Homo sapiens: one gene and its partners. The protein of the gene in region 2 interacts with the protein of the main gene of each other region in a pairwise test. Each region holds a gene or a part of one and is shown on either strand. Other genes may lie near its edges.

Region 1 (3,570 bases), on a different chromosome or scaffold from region 2:
ACATTACCACTCATTCTATAGTTTTATTTAATAATAGTAACAAAATCGTAAAAATTGTTATCTGGTTTCATATATTACCTAATTTGCCTTACTATATGAACAGTGAACAGTTGTAATCAGTTCTTTCTTTTTGTTTTAATTTTGTAAAGATGGGGTCTCGTTATGTTGCCCAAGCTGGTCTTGAACCCCTGGGCTCAAGCAATCCTCCTGCCTCAGCCTCCAAAACTGCTGGGATTGTAGACGTGAGTGATTGCACCTGGCTAATCCGTTTTTAAAATTACGAAAACTTCAAACTGCATTGTTAGATTTCTCTCAACTTGTTAAATTTTAATAGTTTCTTCACTTTTTATTAGTTGCTGATATTACCAGGAATTGGTTAAAGGTAAAGATATAGCACTCCATAATACTGAATATATTTAGGATGCTCATAAGGAATTGACTGATATGTTTAATCTAAGTAACTTTTTAGTAGGCTCACTCTGAAAAAAAATGATGTTTTATTTGCTAGAAAACTGTAGTATATGGCACACAAATATATTGAATCTGAATTTTTTACAAAGAGAGACAGGTCATTTAGTACATTATTCCAATCAATAAAAAGTTATTCTAGAAACTCTCTATATACTTGTAGTGATGGGTAAATACAGTATTTCCCATGACAACTTAACAGCACTGCTGATAGAAAGCCTGTCCTTATGTTAAGCTAAATTCTACATTTTTCTAACTTTCACTCATTAATTCTAAGCTGGCATCCTGAAGTAAACATATAAGCCTGATCATCTTTCTGTGTAATAATATTTGAAAAACTTCAAGATTCTTCCAAAATAACCAAGGCTTTGCTTTTCAGAACATGTTTTGTAGGCTCCTCCTAATGCAAGATACTTACATGCTTCTAGATTTAGTCAAGTTTTTCAATACATGTTTTAAAATGTGTTGCCCAGAACTGTCACCATTTTTTCTCTATTTGATGCTGTACTTCTATTACTTTGGCTTAAAATTACATTGGCTTTTTAAAGGCTCATACTATTGATTCTTATTGAACTTAACAGTTATTGAACTTTCCTCATCTTTTATCAACAAATAATCGAGTGTTTTTTTTTAGTATTTTATATTTATACAAATTATTTTTGATCCTTTGTTGAACTTCATATTTTTTGACCATATATTAGAAAATTTCAGATTTTATTAAAGTCAAATTCTGTCTTCTCTAATAGATAACCTGTTTTAAGACTGACTCTGTTTATTTCTGACATCTGGAGACAGGCACTATACCAAAGGTTCTCCTTTTTCCTTAGGGTTTTAGGGATTCCAAGGAGCGGCTGGTATAGGAGATGAGGAGTGGAGATAATAAGCCAAGTAGACAGAGTGCTAGCCTTCCTAATCAGATTCAAACAGAGCACGCATTTGTATTTTATTTTACACATTAAACTTCTGAGAGTTAATTTGAAAAAACAGTGCAGGGGCTTAAAATTAGTTTTTGAAAATCACTGAACTGTTTATAATCTCCTTTAGGCCTTCCAGTTCCACAAACATACCTTAACTGTAGTGGTTTAAAAATATACAGAAAGAAAGAGAGATTTGAAGATAAAACAATTAAGAAAAAATATACAAAGATGTTTTGAACAACATACCAATTAGCTTTTCCTCCGTTGGTTATCCACATCTTCTGACCATTAATAATATACTCATCTCCTTTCTTTTCTGCTTTGGTCTTTATACCAGCTACATCAGAGCCTGCTCCAGGTTCTGTTACACAATAAGCCTTGAATATATAAAAACAAGAGAAATGAAATTAAATGTTAGTGATTAAATTTTGACTGTTTGGAAACAGGATTGTTTTATTTTTTAAGCTGTATTTTAAATATTTTTAAATATCTAAAATTAAAATGTTCTTACAAAATCAAAGAAACCACTCAAATGTAAAAACTTTTCTGTTTTGTTTGTAAGAGACAGGGTCTCACTCTCTTGCCCAGGCTGGAATGCAGAGGCTCAATGCAGTCTTGGCTTCCTGGACTCAGGAAATCCTCCCGCCTCAGCCTCCCGTGTATAATAGCTGAGACTGCAAGCACACATCACCATGCCCAGCTAATTTTAAATTTTTTGTAGACATGGCATCTCACTGTGTTGCCTAGGCTGGTCTCAACCTCCTGGGCTCAGGCAATCCTCTGCCTCAGCCTCCCAAAGTGCTGGGACTACAGGTATGAGCCACAGTGCCTGGCCTAAAAACACTTAATATATAATTCAAATTAGGCATAGGTATATCAACAAATCATATATTTAATAAAAAGTGAAAATGTTAGATAGCTTTAAACAAGTTCATTAAATTCAATTTCACATGTATTCATTCATGCAAACATGTATTGAATATCTACTATGTACCACGATGTAAATTAGGATATGGGGAAACCAGAGGTAAAAGACATTCAGTCCTAGAGATTTTCACAATGTAACAGTGAAGATAAATAACTATACTGCAACTCTATGTGTGAAAGTCAGACAAGGGGCTTGAGAAACTAGTTTCCCAGGGCAGAGGATGTTTAAATTAAGTCTCAAAAAGGAAAATGGCTTCTTTGCGAGGAGGGAAAAAGAGGAAGAATATGCATTCCAGGTACAAGTAATGGCATATGCTATGACACTAAGATAAGAAACAGAGTTACCCAGTGTTTCTAATGCTGAAAGTACCAGAGTTCCACAGTATGTAAATTCTGTGCATGTAAGGGAATGGTAAGACATGAGTCTGGAAAGAAAGGAAGGAAATGGTCGACGAGAATCTTTTATATCACATTACAAATTTAAAATTTTATCTGGTAGAAACAGGGGAGCCTCTTAGAGCTCTTAAACAGAGGAGTGACAAGACACAAGCAGTAATGGATAAAAGGGGGTGGTAGAAGGCAAGTGTTAGTGCAAGTTAATTCAAGAGTGGCCGGTACTGTGGATACTAAAGAAACAAGTTACTTGCCCTTAAGGTACTTACAGTCCAAAGAAGAAAGAAACTGGGCCGAGCATGGTGGCCCCCCACCTGTAATCCTAGCATTTTGTGAGGCTGAGATGGGAGGATCGCTTGAGACCAGGAGTTCAAGACCAGCCTGGTCAACATGCCGAGAACCCATGTCAATTTATTTTTTAAAAATATACAACAAAAAAGAAAGAAACTATATACATTTTAATTCAAAGTAGTAAGCATATATAGGGGCACTAGAAATGATTACTTAGGGCCGGGCGTGGTGGCTGAGGCTTCAGGTTTGTAATCCCAGCACTTTGGGAGGCCGAGGCAGGTGGGTCACCTGAGGTTAGGAGTTCGAGACCAGCCTGGCCAACATGGTGAAACCCTGTCTCTACTAAAAATACAAAAACTTAGCCAGGCTTGGTGGCGGGCGCCTGTAATCCCAGCTACTTGGGAGGCTGAGGAAGAATTGCTTGAACCTGGGAGGTGGAGGTTGCAGTGAGCCGAGATGGTGCCACTGCACTCCAGCCTAGGCAACAGAGCGAGACTCCATTTCAGAAAAAAAAAATAATAACAATACTTGGCTGGGCATGGTGGCTCACACCTGTAATTCCAGCACATTGGGA
Region 2 (3,570 bases):
TGCTGTTAAGAGCAAGTGGAGTCTCACCAGGGGCCACTTCAAAGATCAGTTCCTCGGGTTCATTAGAACAAATTTAAATGATCATGTGTGGAACTGCTCTTAGCAGTTTCACTGGGCATAATTTTTGAGTGCCTGTTACATGGAACACGCACTGCCACACTTTGCTCATGATTCCAAATTTTGCTAAGCACATTGACATTTATTGGTGCTCCAGAGGCCCAAATGTTTTAATAACTGAGCTCGTTTTTATTCTTAGTGACATAATATTAGGATTCTACAATTCCTACATATTTGTCATATTTATAACCTCATGCACATGAATATTTTAAATATAGCATTTTTGGTATGTTTTCTCACATCTTCCTAATTGTATATGATTGCATGCAGAATACTATGTGATAATAGAGGGCTGCAAATAATAACAGCTTAGTTAAATAAGCAAGATATGTCTGTGTGTAATTTTTTAAATGTCTATCATTATTTCTCAAATGTGCTTCTGTTTTAAAAAAGGACTGAGACATAAGTTTGTCTCTTTTTCTTAGCTAGTTTATTCAACAAATATTTATTGAGCACTTACTATATGCCAGACACTTGGCAACAAGAAAGACAAGATACTTGCCCGTATGGGATTTACAGTGGATATGTAAATCTGTCTTCTGTTTTCAGTAAAGAGAAAACATTATTTTCTCCATATTATATTTAAATTATGTGCATTATTTTGTGGTGACAAGGGTTTCCACAAAGTGTTACATTTTCAGCTATGTTAAAGTAATTTAAGAAATTTACTTGAAAAAAATAAATGATTGTTCCTTCAAGGATGGATGGAGTTTTATAGTCAATAGGTTCCCCAAAAGGAGATAAAGCAGACCATGTGCAAAATGCTATCTCAAGAATAAAATAGTCTTATAAATATAAAAGCTTCAGAGACCTAAGTGTATTTGTTTCCATTAAAATAGCTGCATCAGCAATGATAGGCTTTGAGGAATTCTGCAAAAAGAATTAAATAATAAATATTGATATTAAATTCTGTATTTTAAAAAGATTTCATTGCCCTACATTGTTTTTAAATAATGAAAAATAGGGTAACATATTTGCAAACAATTTCTTTCAGGATAACTGTAAAAATGATTTCATTTTGGTGGTGTGTGGTTGTTCTAAATTATGGAGATGCAGAGTTGAGGGTTTTTTGTTTTGTTTTGTTTTTAAGCAATCATTGCTTTTCAGAGGTCACTGGAATTCTGCTCATGTGTGCTCTTCCTACAGCAAAGCAGGTATTGGTGAGGTCTTTGAAGGTCACCAAGGGCCAGTGACAGGAATTAACTGCCACATGGCAGTGGGCCCAATCGACTTTTCTCACCTGTTTGTCACATCATCATTTGACTGGACTGTCAAACTGTGGACCACCAAGGTAAGAATATCTTGACTGAAATTCTCAGATAATACATAAGGGCAGAGGATGGTTTTTCATTCCCTGGAAACAGTTGTCCCTAAAGCCTCTTCCAGGCAACCTGGCATTGGGAATTCATATACCTTCTGGTGAGCTCAGTCTACCTCAGAGCTAGTTAAGTCCATTTTATTTACTTTTACACATATAGGTAATACTTGAAAATATTCTAACTATAAAAAATTCAAACAATTCAAATAATGATAAAGCTGCAGTCCTCCTCTACCTACCCCAACCCCAACCCCATCCACAACACCCCCTTCACTGCCTGCACCTCAGTCCCCTCCCCAGGGGTAAACTTTTATCAGTTTCATGTCTATGTTCTGGAGCTTGGTGGTATCTACTTACTTACATATGTACCTATGGAAATATATGATTTGGGACTTGGGTTTTTTTTTGTTTGGTTCGTTGATTGGTTGTTTATTTTTATTTTGAGCTATTGGAAGTTTTTAAGCTGGTAAATGGCCCTATGTTATGTTTTTAAAGGTAATTCTGGCTGGGAGCTGTGGCTCACATCTGTAATCCCAGCACTTTGGGAGGCCGAGGTGGGTGGATCGCTTGAGGTCAGGAGTTTGAGACCAGCCTGGCCAACATGGTGAAGCCCCATTTCTACTAAAAATAGAAAAATTAGCTACATATGGTGGTACATGCCTGTAGTCCCAGCTACTCTCGAGGCTGAGGCAGGAGAATCACTTGAACCTGTCAGGCAGAGGTTGCAGTGAGCCGAGATTGGGCCACTGCATTCCAGCCTGGGTGACAGAGCCAGACTCCATCTCAAAATTAAAATAAAATAAAATAAAATAAAATAGTAAAATAAAATATAATTCTCTCCATGCTTGAGAGCAAGAAGAAAAGCTGAGACCACTTGGAAGGAAGGCACAATAATCTAGGAAAGAAATGACAGTGACTTAAACCAGTAGTCTGAGATGGAGAGAAATAAATGCATTTGAGAACCATTTAAGAGATAAAAGCCACAGAAACTGGTGATTGATTTGATAGAAGGAAGGTAGGAGAGGGAGTCATCAGCAGATAACCCAGGTTTAAGACCTGGGCAGCTGGTGAGTGTAGCACTCACTGCACTGGAGAACAGCAGGGGAAGGACATGCTGGGGCAGAGCTTTGCATATGTTGAGCTAAAGGTGCCCGGGAGAGGCATTTCAAGATCTCCATTAAGCAGTTTGATATGTGAGTCAGAAGAAGAGAGAGCCCTCCAAACAGAACGTATGCACTAGAATAGCAGTGATCTTCACAAATGAGTAGTTTTTTTTTTTTTTCTTTTTTTTGAAACATAGTCTCGCTCTGTCACCCAGGCTGGAGTGCAATGGCACTATCTTGGCTCACGGCAGCCTCTGCCTCCCAGGTGCAAGTGATTCTCCTGCCTCAACCTCCCTAGCAGCTGGGATTCCACAGCACACACCACCATGCCCACCTAATTTTTGTATTTTTAGTAGAGATGGGGTTTCGCATGTTGGCCAGGCTGGTCTTGAACTCCCAACCTCAAATGATCTGCCCGCCTTGTCCTGCCAAAGTGCTGGGATTACAGGCATGAGCCACCACACCTGGCCCAGCAGTGGATTTTAAAAGAAACACTAACATGCAATCTGGAGGGAGAGCAATACTTAGGAAATAAATAGAAATTGAACTAGAAAAGGGAGATGAAAAAGTAACCCAGGAAATAGAAGACAAATTAGAATTTTCTTTGCAGCTTCATGGGTATTAATGGAAAAAACCATGTTAAGAGGACAGAATTTGCTTTTAACTATATGAAAAGATAACAACCTCATTTATAAGAGAAATTAAAATTAAAACCAAGTTGAGAAACATATTTCCAACTATCAGATTGACAAAAATCTAAGTTTTGCAACATACTCTGTGATGAGGCCGAAAGAAACCAGCTGTTCTCATACATTTCCATTGGAAATGCAAAATGGCTCAACACTGTGGAAGAGGATTTAGCAATATCTAAAAATAATACATGTTTTAACAGAACAATTTCCACTTCTAGGAATCTATGCCAAAGATATACCAGCAAAAATAAGACAGAAGACATATGGAGAAGGACATTCACTGAAAGATTATTTGAATAGCAAAAGAATGAATACAACTCAAAAATCTCTATCAGTACAG
Region 3 (3,570 bases), on a different chromosome or scaffold from region 2:
GAAGGGGGTGGACCACAGCGAGGACCAGAGGTGATGATGGGTGTCAGGCTGACTCGGGTACTAACTTGCTGTGCAACCTCAAGCAAATCCCTGCCCCTCTATGGGCCTTGATGAAGAGAGTGGGTCAAATGAGATGGGCTCTGAGATTGTAAGACCTCAGCCCTTCCTGCCATCTCAGGACTCCCCCACCACCCTCACCTGAGCAGCAGCCGCAGGTGCTCTTGGTCCCCGATGACATCGTACTTGAGTGAGAAGACAAGGTGGCCGAGGGCAGCGTCCAGTGAGTAGTAATTGAAATGCTCCTGCAGTGGGAGGTGGGGGCCAGGGGAGTGGGTGAGGCTGAGCATGGGGCTTTTGGAAACAAGGCCAGAAAGCCAACCCACTCCCAGATGCAGGTCCTTCGCCGATAGCAGGTGTCACGGCTGATAGCAGACCCCACATCAGACAGACCTGCACTCAAAGCCCCACTCTGCCACTGACCAGCTGGGCAGCCTGAGGAGGTCACTTGGCCGCTCTGTGCCTCACTTTCCTAGTCTGCCAAATAGGAGGGAACCCTGTACTTTGGTGGCAGCCAGGACTGAAAGGGATGAAGTGCTTGGCTCAGTTCAGTGAAGGTGGGTAGTAACGCTGGATCTCTGGGTGCTCATCGAGTCTGGACCATATTCGGACCTGCATGCCTGTCTTCAGCCCTGGTCCTTCTCAGGGCTGGGCACCCAGCAGGTGCTCAATGAGCAAAAGCTGATTGCCCAACCTGTGACTCTGTGGCCCCTGAAGCCAGGGCCCATGAGAAACAGGAAGCGAAACATCTCACAACACACAGGGTGGCTGGCCAGGCAGGTTTCCACCCTCCTGTCTCACCTGGAGGAGAGGGCACAGGGTTGGGAAGACACCCTGGGGAGTATCAGGGGTGGCTGCGGCAGGGATGGCACCCCCAGAGAGGAGCCCAGGGCTGGCACCTCCGGGTGGGGAAGTCCCAAAGCCGAGGGCTGGAAGTTCAGGGAGACACCACCCAGCCTGGCCCCGGGCTCCTCCTGCCAACCTCAGCCCCAGCCCTAGCCCAAGTTCTGGGAGTGGAGCTGGCTGCCCGGCCACACCCGCCCCAGGAATCATCCTAGAAGTAAATCCTGTTCAAACATGAACACCTGTGCTCAGAGGCCAGGAGCAGATAGAGGCAGGGACCAGTGAATGTGCCCCACGAATCCGCAGCTCAGGGGCATTCTCAATGGACCTGGGGCAGAGTCCCCCAGCTCTGCCTGGGCACAGAGTGGCAGAAACCCCCAAATGCTTGACATCATCCAGCAGAGAGGGAGTGGCAGGCACTTGATAAGGAGGCCCCTGGCAGGGAAGTCCAGAGAGTGGGGAGGTTCCTTGGACACCCCCAAGCCCAGAGGAGCCCCCGGGACACAGTGGGAGAGCGGGCTCAGGGTCCCAGGAAGTCAACGCCCAAAGTCATCCTAACCTCCCCTCTCTGCCAGGATAGGGCCCAGTGCCTGAGCACCTGGCTGCTTCCCCCATTACCCCACCTGGAGTCAGGAAGGGGCCCTGCCATTCTGCCAGCCCTGGGGCTTCTCCCTCATTACTGCTAATCTGATCCTGGACATGAAGCCTCTTCTTTTTTTTTTGAGATGGAGTCTTGCTCTGTCGCCCAGGCTGGAGTACAGTGGCACCATCTCAGCTCACTGCAATCTCCACCTCCCAGGTTCAAGCGATTCTCCTGCCTCAGCCTCCTGAGTAGCTGGGATTACAGGCGCCCAGCACCACACCTGGCTAATTTTTGTATTTTTGTTAGAGATGGGGTTCTGCCATGTTGCTCAGGCTGGTCTTGAACTTCTGACCTCAAGTGATCTGCCCACCTCGGCCTCCCAAAGTGCTGGGATTACAGGTATAAGCCAGGGCGCCCAGCTGCCTCTTCTGACCCTCCAGTCTGCACTTCTTCAGAGCCTGCTGCACTCGAGGTCCACTACCTTCATCTGTTCCTACCTTCATCTGTCACTTGTCACTCTTTCAACAAACTTTTCTGAGTACCAACCATGTGTTTGGCATATACAGTACCCTCAGATCCTACCACCTGCCAGACCCAGCTGGGAACCTCTGGACAGCAGGTGCCTAGGATGCAGGTCTCGCTCCACCTCTAGGGCTCAGCTGGGAAGTGGAATTCCATGCTGGGTTCTGGGTTTGTTCCCAGGCAAAGGCTCCTGAACCTGGGCTTGCTGGTTTAGTCCCAGTCACAGTGGATCCTCCCCTAACTCCATTGGTTAGCACCGGTGTCTCCCAGAGTTAGGCCAATGGCCAGGCCCAGACTGAGGTCACACATCTTCCGAACCCCCAAGGAGTCACCCCCTCTTCCCAACACACACACACACACACACACACACACACACACACACACACACACACACACACATACAATGACTAGGAGCATGATCTCTCCCATGCACCTTAATGGAAGGTCAGCCAAAGCTGGTTCAATTCCCAGGCTTAGTCATTGTGTGACCTTGACTAAATCATTTACCTATCTGAGCTTCGGTTTCCTCTTCTGCAAAAACAGAATAATCCTGATATCACCAAGTAATTATGAAGACATGAAAACAGCTAACATTAACTGAGTATTTACCATGTGCCAGGTGTGGTTCTAGAAGCTTTGCGTGTACTTTTATTATCCCTGTTTTCACCGACGAGGAAAGTTAAATAACTTGCCCAAGGTCACACAAACAGTTAATGGAAGAGCCAAGATTCCCACACATGCCACGAGGCTCCAGAGCCCACGACACACTTCCCCATTTTGGCTCTATGCTGACGAAGAGACAGCACCCGGCCTGCAACCTGACACACACATTCCCGGCATGGGACCTCCCCTTGGCTCCCACAACACTCTGACAAGTTGTTGCTGGGCAGGGTCCCTGCTCTGTGCTGGTGGTGGGGCAGGGGCTGCATCAACCCATGACATTACTGTTCTCCTAACTCCAAGCTGCCCAAAGGGAGGGCCTGGGTCTATTGTGTTGGCTGCTGTATACCTGGTGCCTAGAACAGGGCCAGGCACACAGCTAGTGCTCATTATTTGCCACCCCTGACTGAGCACTTACTTTGTCCCAGACACCACTGTAAAGACCTTACAGATATCAGCTCACTAAAGCCTCACAGCAACCTCAGGAGGTGGGTATCATTACCACCAACCACCATTTTCACAGATTAGGAAATGAGGCACAGAGAAGTTAAGCGATTTACCCGATGTCCTGTGTAGTGGGTGGCAGAGCCAGGATTCAAGCCCTGGTAGAGTCTCTGCCATGAACCACCATGCCATAATGCTGCCTTTGCAATCAATGTTGAATGAACAAGTGATTCTGCCATGCATGTTCCCTGGGGACTGGGAGTGTGTGTGGTGGGAGCACATTCACTCAGGGCTCTAGGACTGTCACCCAGCCCTGGCCCATGGGTTCTGCTCCCTCCCAGGCCCACCTCGAATGGGGCTGAACTGTGACCCACCCCAGCCAGCCCCGCTGCACCAGCCGGCCACCCACCTTGCCGAGAAAGTGCTTCCGGTAGATGCGGGCTGTGGGGTTGCACTCGAGC
Region 4 (3,570 bases), 8.3 Mb from region 2:
GCTATGTAATTTGGATTTAAAAATATTTTCTAAGCAATAGCTATCTGTATAGATAAAATTATTTATATTTATAAAATTATGACAATTTCCCCACTGCATTTTTAATTTTTTGAATATTTCTATCACTAATTCCATTGGGCTTTCCTTATATATATATATCATCTATGAATAATGATATTAAAAGAAGACAAAAAGAGAAAAATAGAAAATACAGTAAAAAAGTAATGGCTACAAACTCCTTAAAATAATAGAGTTTGTTTTCTTTCTGTTATATACTCCACTTTGCCTACTACAGTGCTTAACACACAAGAGCTGCTAAAATATCTAATTTTCAAAAAATCAGATGTACGTGCTTAGGCAATCACTGCATTTTCACAAACCAATCATCTTTTATAAAATTTATCATAGAAACTAAAATCTCAAATACATAAATTAAGCTGCTTATTAAAATAATGGCTTGTTTTTATGTTAAAACATAAAATTGGAAAAAGTTCAACAAACAAAAGTATCTTCTACAGTTGCCTGATTTTTCATTAAGAGGAGGACAATTCAAAAACAGAAGAGAAGCAGCAATGGATAAATAATTTTATTCAGTTAAAAAATATTTTGGCAGTCACAGTTCAAAGGCAATAACTAGAATAAAATTAAGTACGTTTTGATAATTTTAAAATACCTTCTGTTCCAGGGTAAGCTGATACTTTTGTTTAACTCTCTTACACTTGTTGAACCAACTGTTCTCATCCATGAGGAAAGGAGGTCCGACATTCTCTGGAGTACTGCTTTCGCTACCACTGCTTCCCAAAGTCCTTAGCTCCTCCTCATCACTGCTGATACTATCAGAACTGGGAAGATCAAAATTTTAAAAAAAAGTTAAAAATATGTTCCAACTTGATTCTTAAACACTTTTACATTTGCAAGCTACGGTGAACAAATTCGAAAATATTTAGTACTAAATACAAAATTATAATGATATTATAAAGATTTAAGCTTCCTGAAAAAAAAATGGCAAGTTAGCATGGGCTGCTGACTCCCTCTCGGAAACCAACCCTAGAGATACTACAGAAGTTCAAGTGGGTTTACAGATATAAGGTATTAAGATATAAACCAAGAATGCCCAAAAGAGAGAGAAAAGATTTCCAGAGAAGAGAAACAGAAACTCTAGATGCGCTGGAAACAGCCTTCTAACTGGGTTCCTTTCACTGCCCGAGGTGGATTGCTGCCTGCTCAATCTTCAATACAAGGCAGACAACAGCAGTTCCAGCTAATAACAGTGGGGTATAATACAGGGTAGTGTGTCAAGATCAGCTCAGCTTTAGCAAAGAGAAGATAACAACAGGTTCAGAAGATCCAGTCACTCCTAAGCATTTCCTACTGAGGGGAACAAGGACAAGCAGAGGTAGAGCAGAGAGAACATCTATCACAATCCATATCTAAAATTCCTCAGGATATGACTATAGAACAGAAGCAGAGCATAAGGTGAAAAAAATGGTAGAAGAGAAACTCAATAGAGATAAAAATGTGCTAAGATGATGGTCCAATTTAGAAGAAAAATATTGGTGTTAATTCATGGACACAGGGAGGGGAACATCACACACCGCGGCCTGTTGGCAGTGGGGAGCAAGGGAAGGGAGAGCATTAGGACAAATACCTAATGCATGCAGGGCTTAAAACCTAGATAATGGGTTGATGGGTGCAGCAAACCACCATGGCACATGTATAACTATGTAACAAACCTGCACGTTCTGCACATGTATCCCAGAACTTAAAGTATAATAAAAAAAAAGAAGAAAAATACTGGTGTTAATATACTTAAAAATAAACATGGAAAAATAAAATTTTAAATATGAGCAATTATATTAAAAAATAAGTAGAAGCATAAAAATAGTCTGTATTACCTTGAGAGTATTCAAAGAAACCACAATCTGTCAAATGCAGGAGCAAACAAAACAAAACAAAACAAAAAACAACCAAACCTGCCAAAGAAAATTCAAAACAAAAAAGGAGATGGCAGAAATAAACCCTAGTACAAAAGTAATCACACACAATTTAAATGAGTTAAACTCAATAGCCAAACCCCAGATGTTCAGGTCCAGTTAAGACAATTATATAAGGGGCTGGGCATATTAGCTCATTCCTGTAATACCAGCCCTTTGGGAGGCCAAGGTGGGCGGATCACTTGAGGCCAGAAGTTCAAGACCAGCTTGGGCAACATGGTGAAAACCTGTCTCTACTAAAAATACAAAAAAAAAAAAAAAATAGCTGGGCGTGGTGGCACATGCCTGTAATCCCAGCTACATGGGAGGCTGAGGCATAAGAATCATTTGAACCCAGGAGGTAGAGGTTGCAGTAAGCTGAGATTGTGCCACTGCACTCCAGCCTGGGTGACAGAGAGACTCCGTCTCAAAAAAAAGGAGTGGTGGTGGTTGGACAATAATGAGTGATCTATAAAATACACATGGTTTTTCTAAATATTTGGGATTTCTGATTCTATCATAATTGAAAAAAAAAAAAGAGTTCATTCAACTTTTTCCCAAGATGGCTGACTAGATACATCAGATGCCAGTTCTCCTCAGAAAGCAGATCAAATTTATAGATGAATAATCATAGCCTGAGTGGAAAGTTGAGATAAGAGTGTTGAAACCTGTTGGAGACCATGCAGGAAACAGCTGGGAGGCAGAAAAGGAAGGCAGCAAGAGCCTGGGAGAGACTGACCATTAAGGAACTTGGAGTCCCATAGAAAGGGTAGGTAGGGGCATTTCTTTGCACCCCTCACCAATGTGACAAACTGCTGAGAAGTGAATTGTCAGAGAGCCCCTCTGCCCCTGCAAACCTGGGCAATTCTGCCAATAGTAATCTGGAAACATCCTGTGGGCAGAGCACCAGGTGGTCAGCTTGTGCAGCTGGGCTCACATTGCCCCCAAACCTGAGCTGAAGCAGTGGGTGCGATACTCGTTGTGCAGATTCAGGGAATCTCAGCCCTTGTGTCACTGCATCACCAGATTCCCCACAAACATTTCTCAGAGTCTTCTCTGAATCTGCAACCAGAGGGGACCATCAGGACCCTGGGGAGCTGCAGGATCCCTGGAGATCTAGTCCTCGGTGTGGGCCACTCCTAGGGGAGGGAGAGGTGCAGCCCACCAAAGCACTCACTGGGACAAAGGAACCAGATTGCAACTTCTCTCCTGCCTGAGAACCCCACATTTGTGACAAGATGGGTGACTGTGCCCTTCTCCTGTGCCCTGACCTACTACTGCAGATGCAGCGAAGGCTTTTCCTACTAGAGGTTGACACAGGCACACTTGGAGACAGTACTATTCTCCACTAAAAGTGTGCCTATCACCTGGGCTTAAATAAAGGGTATGACTCACCTCCCTCTCCCTACACAGAGTGGCAACATTCCTGCAATAGAGTACAGATCGCCAGCAGAGTTGTTTGTTTTCGGCTGGGTGAAAAGTTTTCTCCCTTGGGTTATTTTGTTGGTAGTAGACAGACAGGCATTTTCCACAAACCTCAGTTGCATTGTGGCCTAGAGATAAAGATAGTGTCTATCTAAACTGAAAGTTGCAAGCC

What was found.
Region 1: the proteins of DYNC1I1 (region 2) and ACADM interact in a two-hybrid assay, tested with the Homo sapiens proteins (one large-scale study listed by BioGRID).
Region 3: the proteins of DYNC1I1 (region 2) and RAP1GAP interact in a two-hybrid assay, tested with the Homo sapiens proteins (one large-scale study listed by BioGRID and IntAct).
Region 4: the proteins of DYNC1I1 (region 2) and RUNDC3B interact in a two-hybrid assay, tested with the Homo sapiens proteins (one large-scale study listed by BioGRID and IntAct).

The regions. Positions count from the first base shown.
Region 1 is NC_000001.11:75,738,172-75,741,741, reverse strand, and holds part of ACADM (medium-chain specific acyl-CoA dehydrogenase, mitochondrial isoform a precursor), read right to left. Parts: intron 1,763-3,570; coding exon 1,632-1,762; intron 1-1,631. UniProt on the Homo sapiens protein: Medium-chain specific acyl-CoA dehydrogenase is one of the acyl-CoA dehydrogenases that catalyze the first step of mitochondrial fatty acid beta-oxidation, an aerobic process breaking down fatty acids into acetyl-CoA and allowing the production of energy from fats.
Region 2 is NC_000007.14:96,038,014-96,041,583, forward strand, and holds part of DYNC1I1 (cytoplasmic dynein 1 intermediate chain 1), read left to right. Parts: intron 1-1,263; coding exon 1,264-1,408; intron 1,409-3,570. UniProt on the Homo sapiens protein: Acts as one of several non-catalytic accessory components of the cytoplasmic dynein 1 complex that are thought to be involved in linking dynein to cargos and to adapter proteins that regulate dynein function.
Region 3 is NC_000001.11:21,613,788-21,617,357, forward strand, and holds part of RAP1GAP (rap1 GTPase-activating protein 1), read right to left. Parts: coding exon 3,519-3,570; intron 303-3,518; coding exon 199-302; intron 1-198. UniProt on the Homo sapiens protein: GTPase activator for the nuclear Ras-related regulatory protein RAP-1A (KREV-1), converting it to the putatively inactive GDP-bound state.
Region 4 is NC_000007.14:87,767,853-87,771,422, reverse strand, and holds part of RUNDC3B (RUN domain-containing protein 3B), read right to left. Parts: intron 843-3,570; coding exon 674-842; intron 1-673.